Linked DNA regions of Homo sapiens. The protein of the gene in region 1 interacts with the protein of each later gene in a pairwise test. Each region holds a gene or a part of one and is shown on either strand. Other genes may lie near its edges.

Region 1 (3,818 bases):
TATGATAACCTGTAACCATCTTCGTTAATTCTCTATTTTCCTGTTCTGTGTTTGTTCACCCCCCAATCCCCAACTGGAACGTTATCCCCAAAATGCAAAACACCATGTTCTTTCACTGCTGATCCTCAGTGCTTAGAATACAGCCAGGCGCAGAGTAGGTGCTGAATAAATATTGCTCACAATCTTACAGCCTTCCAGCTCACCATGAGGTAGATACTAATATCAGTCCCATTTTCCACATGAGCACACTGAGGCTTAGAGAAGAGTTTCCCAATTAGCAGGTGGCCAAACCAGGATTGGAACTCAGCCCTGCCTAAGTAGTTAACCCATCTCCTAAATAGCCTGAATTCTAATCCCTCCACCTGCCTTCCAAGGAGCACAAATTGAGGACATGAAAAAGAATGTTTTTTTGTGGTTCTCAGTTCTGTTTCCAGAAAGACCTAAAAAAAAATAGTAGCTGTAATTTATCAAGTACCTACTATATGCCAAACACCGCATTTGCCATTCCCACTATGGCCCTAAGAAGGTGATATATGAAGGAGGCGGCTGCAGCCCTATTTTGTAAGGAGAAAAGCGGTCCCCAGGGAGGTTTGTGAGTTGCCTAAAGGCACATGTGGAGAAGCTGAGAGTTAGGCCTGAGTTAGACTTGACAGCACCTGATACACTTAACCTTGAAAGCAGCCCAGCTGGCTCCAGAGAAACTCCCAGTTCACCTCACCTCTTTCGCACTGGCTGCTAACTGAGCATGGCACGTGGGCCTCCTTTCCCTTCCTCCACTGCACTGGGCATGTTCCTGCCTCTGGCCTGCTGCTTCCTGTTACCTTTGCTCTAATCTGTGCTCATCTATCTTCAGGGCCCTCCCACACTTCTCTCCTCCCTCTTCAGTTGCTCTGCCCCCTTCTCTCCTCCCTCTTCCACTGCTCTGCCCGCTTCTCCCTCTTCCATTGCTCTGCCTCAACTCCAGTCAGGAGCCTCTTTGCCATTCCGGAAACACACCAAGCAAGCAAAGGCCAGCCTCAGGGCCTTCGCACCTACTGTTCCTGCTGCCTAGAGTGCCTCCCACAGAGGTCTGCACGGCTTTGTCCCTCAGCTCCTCGGGGTCTTTGTTCAAGTGTCACCTTCCCTGACCACCCGATTTAAGAGGCAAAGCCCCCACTTCCTTCTCCCACCCCTGCTTTATTTTCCTCCATAGCAGTTAGCACCATTAGCCACGCTACACATTTTATTCATTCGTTCCAGCTCCCTCACTAGATGGTGAGTGCCACAAGGGCAAGGATCCGTGTTTTCTGGTTTTTTTTTTTTTTTTTTTTTTTTTGAGACAGTCTCTGTCACCTAGGCTGGAGTGCAGTGGTGCGATTTCAGCTTACTGCAACCTCCACCTCCCAGGTTCAAGCAATTCTCTTGCCTCAGCCTCCCGAGTAGCTGGGATTACAGGTGCCTGCCACCAAGCCCAATTAATTTTTTTTCGTATTTTTAGTAGAGATGGGGTTTCACCATGTTGGCCAGGCTGGTCTCCAACTCCTGACCTCAAGTGATCCACCCGCCTTGGCCTCCCAAAGTGCTGGGATTCCAGGCATGAGCCACTGCGCCCAGCTGATTCATGCTATTTTGTTTGCTGCAGGAGCCTACGCCCAAAGCACCATGGCATGTGGTAGGTGCTCAATAAATACGGGATGATGGGTGGCTGGAATCACAACGCCATGAAGTCGAGGGAGAGGGCTTTGTCAGTCTCATTTACTGTGTCCTCAGCACCTAGAATAGTGCCTGGCACACAGTAGGTGCTCAATAAATGCATGACCTGAGAGACTGTTCCCAGAGGGCAAGGACTGTGTGACCTCCTGCTGTGATCTCTGCCCTCCTGACCTCGAAGATGGTGCAGTGGCTGGGGTGGGGAAAGCCCATTCCACGCCACTGGTGGCCGCACCTGTGGTGATGCAGAAGTAGGTCTCGTGGGGTGAGACGTGGTGGATGCGATGGTGTTTACGTGGCAGGATGACATGCCAGTCCTGCAGGAGGGTGACCCAGCGTGGCAGCCCAAAGTACGTGTGCGACCACTTGTGGATCTGGTTGGTGAAGGTGCCGAAGATGATCAGGCAGAAGACGAAGCACTCCCAGGGGTATAGCTGCTCCAGGGCTTCTGCAGGTTGGGGAGAGGGGGGGCCGGCACAGCTGTCACTCGGGACGGGGAACCCACCCCAAATGGCCCTCACCACCTGCTCCTGGGCGGCTCCTGAGCTGGGCAAGCACCCAGGATTCTCTTCCACCCCCTGCAGGGCCGCAGGCAAGCTCAGGTGCTGCCCTGGGCTTCAGGCTTTCCTCCTGCTCAGGAAGCAGGCGTAATGGTGTAATAGGATAATGGCATAAGCATGGCAATGGCTGGGAATGTAGACCGGAGTCAGCTGGAGCTGGGTTCCGATCTCTGCCGACATTTCTTGGCAGTATGGGCTGGATCGGTGACTCTGCCTCTAAGAAGCTTAATTTCCCCATCAGGAAAATGGGAATGATGCCTTCACCCAGGTTCCCTAGAAGCGGAGCCTGAAACAGGTTCTTGTGCATGTGATTTATCAAGGGAGCCTCTTCAGGAAAAAACCTCGAAGGGAGGGAGGGAAGCAAGACACGGCAGGGGAAGAGCAGAGCAAAGATGGGGTGGGTGGCGTCCTGTCTCAGTCTGTTCCTGCAAGGAGCTCTGAGGTGTTAACGGCTCTTTAGAATTAGACCCACTCAGAGGCAAAGGGACTAGCGTCGGAGGCGTTTCAGTCACTGGCTCCAGCCTTATCCCAAGGAGACAGGTGGGACCTCCCCTCCATCCCTGGAGAAGCTGGGAGCTGTCAGCAGCCACCACTCACAGAAGCAGGGGCTGGGTGCACCCCCAGGGAAGGGGATGGGCAGGGTGCCATAGCACCCACTACACTACACGTCCTCACCACCTCTACCCACCGGAGGCTGCCTGAAGAACAAATGGGTGTTAAGGTGCTGGAACAGGACCGGGCCCCAACCTACCTCCACCTGACAGATAAGGCAACTGAGGCTCAGAGTGGTGAAATCACTTACTTTGGGACCAGTCCCTCTAAAAATAGGCAGGCCCTGTTTTCACAGCCTAGACATTTTCCACTAGGCCACGGTAGCAAAACCCCAGAAGCCCTGCCAGGCAGGTAACACAAATGAACAAGGTGGGTTGGGTGCAGGGAAGCAAGGAATAGTGGGGACGGTGGTAAACTGGAAAGACGCGTCCTGTCAAAGGCAGTGGCTGCAGCTCAGCTCCCACCCAGTGAGGCCAGGTGGGAACATGGACCCAGGGGGGCCAGAGCAGATTGTGCAAGAGAAGCTGGAAACCTCCATCTTCATGTCAGGTTTCCTGATTTTACATGAAGACAATGAATGAAAACTCTTTTAAAATACCATAAGGAGCCAAACACATAAGCCCCAGAAGGCTCCTGGGGGTCGGCCTCTGCCCCCAAGGCCCCCTCCCAGCCCACCACTAGCTGGGTGTCTCACCAGGGCTGTGGGTGCGGAACTTGTAGGCCATGTTTAGCAGCGGCAGCAGTGTCACCAGGCAGTTGTCCCCGTTGGTCTCGATGAAGTCGTGCCGTGTGATAGCTGTCGGGTCAATGTGGTGCTCCCGGAAGGGTCGGATGAAAGCCTGGAGTTGAGGGGGACACAGCCCCAGCAGTCAGCCTAAGGTGGTCAGCTGCTCTCCACAGCCCCCTAAACACATTCACCCTGGGCTCACCTCCCGCCTTTGATCCTAAGTTTCCTCCACCCGGGATGCTTGAACATTCCCACCTGGCCCACTGCCAGACACAGACCCCATCCAGCCT
Region 2 (2,992 bases), on another chromosome or scaffold:
ACTTTGCATCTTTGAGGTTGCCACATCTGTAAAATGAAGATAACTAAGACCTTCTTATTAGGTTGTTGGGAAACATGAAGTGAAATAAGGCATTTAAAAACACTTAGCCCCCTGCCTGGCACATAGTAAAGGCTCAATAAAAGTGAGCCGGCACATGGTAGGTCTATCCTACCGTTTATTGAGTTAACTCAATTAATCCCTATTACATGACATGAACCTGCATATTTCCTTTGTTGTACTGCCTGTAATTATCTTCTTTATTGACTTATTGGCTGTCTTGCAAGCAGGATATAGACTGTAAGCCCCATGAGACAGGGGCACAGTCTCATTTATGGCTGGGTACTCAGGACCCTGCACAGAGCCTGGCTCATGTTTATGAGATGAATGAATAAGTGAATAGCTAGTGGATATTTTGTCTTGAAAGTATTAAACGAAGACATGTTTAACCAATATCTTTCATTTTATTCCATTTGAGGTCCCAAATAATTGCATTAGAATTCCTCTGCAATCTTCCTGCCGCCAACAATTTCTCTTGTTGGCTGTTTTAGGCTCCTCTGGGAGGAACCCAGCCTCCCTCATATGAAAAATGAGTACCCTGGGATCTATTTTATTTTATTTTTTTGAGACAGTCTTGCTCTGTCACCCAGGCTGGAGTGCAGTGGTGCAATCTCGGCTCACTGCAACCTCTGCCTCCAGGGTTCAAGCAATTCTCCTGTCTCAGCCTCCCGAGTAGCTGGGACTACAGGTGCCTGCCACCATGCCCTGCTAATTTTTGTATTTTTAGTAGAGACAGGGTTTCACCATATTGGTCAGGCTGGTCTCAAACTCCTGACCTCAGGTGATCCACCTGCCTTGGCCTCCCAAAGTGCTGGGATTACAGGCATGAGCTACCATGCCTGGCCCCTGAGATCTTTAAAATCATGGAGCTATATTCTAGCTGGGGTCAATAGACTGAAATGTCAGCCCCATACCTGGCATATAGGAAGGACATTTCCCCTCCTCCCACTTGCTCTGCTTATTATATGTAATAGGGGTGTGGAGGAGGCAAGGGAGCTGAATTGGGGGCAGATAGGGGAACAGTTTGGAGATTTATACAATCTTTGTGAATATCTTCCTTTTTTTCTTCGAGTTAGGTTAGACTAGGACATTGCCTGCTTCCAGCAGCACCACCAGGACTGCTGCTGGAAGGACTTCAGAGGGTCAAGAAAATTCTCCAAAGATTTTTGTGTCTCAGGCGATCCCAGCCTCCTCTGTATTTCCAGGGACCTGAGGTTACAGGTGGGGATTATCAGAATATCAGAGAGGGTCCTCGCCCAAACAACAGGATGCCCCAAACTGAAGGCTTGTCATTTATCTCTGAAAGAGGCAAGTCAACACCTTAATCCTCATCATAGCATAGTCCTCGGTCCTCAGTGGCAAGGGTGACTTGAAAGTGGGGCCTTTCATAGCTCCAGAGCCAAGGAGGCCTTGACAATTAGGCAGAGAGAAGACCTGGATGTCCATCCCATCTGATACCCTGACTTCCCAAGAGAACAACCCATTCTTCTCAGATTTCTCCCAAGTCCCTCATTGCTGGGCCTGGAGGCTCGCTTTGGCTCCTGTGGTCTCTGGAGGATGCAGGCATGAAGCCTGACCTGACTTGTACTGACCCTGTCCCAGGCCTTTTGTGTCTCGCCTACCTGGCTACTCCTCGTGGCCCTACCTATCCAACAGACTGTGTGCAGGTGGGCAAGGCCAGGCTGTCTTCCAGGAGTCAGTCCCAACACTCATCAGCAAAAAGGGGTCCGTGTCTAGGTGTCTGGGACTGGTTTAAGTAAGAAGAGAGTGCCAAGACCCCTCTCTCTCTTCCAGGGAGTGAACTGATTTCTGACTTGAGTTGTTTAAATTGGGAAGAGGCCTCATCAGCAATCAGAGAGGTCTAGATCTCTGGAATCTGGCCACGGAGTGATTTTCCCATCAGCCTCTGTCTCGGTGACTGAGGATCTCGGGGCTTCTTCTTTTGCCTCTGACCCAAGGCCCCTCACACACTTCTTCCAGTGAGCCAGGCAGTGATGGGCAGAGGAGCGGATCTCTCCACTCCGTAGAGCATAGATGACAGGGTTGACCATGGAGTTGATGAGGCACAGCATGGAGCAGAAAGCAAAGGCCTTCTTGACCTGGTCACTGAGCGTAGTGGCCAGGCTGTGGGCCATGAGGGCCAGCACTGGGAACCAACAGATGAGGAGCACAGCCAACACTAGCCCTAGGGTCTTGGCCAACCTCACATCCAGCCTCATTCGGGCCATTCCTGGCACCTGCCTGTCCTGGTGGCCAGACAAGCTGGCCACATGCTGATGGGCCTTCCAGAGAACATGCCCATAGGTGTAGATGATTCCGGAAAAGAGGAAGGCGATGAACAGGAGCCAGCTCAGCAGGTAGTCATTGGGGATCAGTGGGAAAAGCTCAGAGCAGGGCCTGGGACAGCAAGTCCATCCCATGAGGGGCAGGTAGGAGACTAGTGCTGAGAGGACCCACATGATGCCCAGGGTCACCAGTGCCCTTCCACGGGTGAGCAGAGCTTTGTAGGAAGGTGGATAGCGCAGGCAGAGGTATCGGTCAATGGCGGTCAGCAGGAGGCTACCCACAGAGGCTGTGAAGGTCATAGTCACGCTGCCAATCTTCAGCAGGAAGACAGCCTTGGAATCCACACCATGGAAAACATGGAAATTCACAAAGCTGCATGCAAAGACCACACTGGCCAGGAAGTCAGCCCCAGCCAAGCTGCCAATGAACAGGTATGAGGGCTTCCGGCGGAGTTGGTGGGAGGACAGGATCAGATAGAGCACAGCCACGTTCTCCAGGGCACTTAGCAGGCCCAGAAGAGTGCACAACACAGCAACAGCTGTCTTCTGGGGACCACTCAGGATCATGTAATCCTTCATAGGGTTGGAATCCAAGCCATCCTTGGAGCCATTGGCTATCTCTGTCACCCAGCATTCCTCCATGGGGTGGG

The links.
Region 2: the proteins of PEDS1-UBE2V1 (region 1) and CNR2 interact in a two-hybrid assay, tested with the Homo sapiens proteins (one large-scale study listed by BioGRID).

What each region holds. Positions count from the first base shown.
Region 1 is NC_000020.11:50,126,051-50,129,868, forward strand, and holds part of PEDS1-UBE2V1 (TMEM189-UBE2V1 fusion protein), read right to left. Parts: intron 3,641-3,818; coding exon 3,496-3,640; intron 2,138-3,495; coding exon 1,925-2,137; intron 1-1,924. Other genes in the region: PEDS1 (plasmanylethanolamine desaturase 1), read right to left, coding at 1,925-2,137, 3,496-3,640.
Region 2 is NC_000001.11:23,872,634-23,875,625, forward strand, and holds part of CNR2 (cannabinoid receptor 2), read right to left. Parts: 5' UTR 2,985-2,992; coding exon 1,902-2,984; 3' UTR 1-1,901. UniProt on the Homo sapiens protein: Heterotrimeric G protein-coupled receptor for endocannabinoid 2-arachidonoylglycerol mediating inhibition of adenylate cyclase. May function in inflammatory response, nociceptive transmission and bone homeostasis.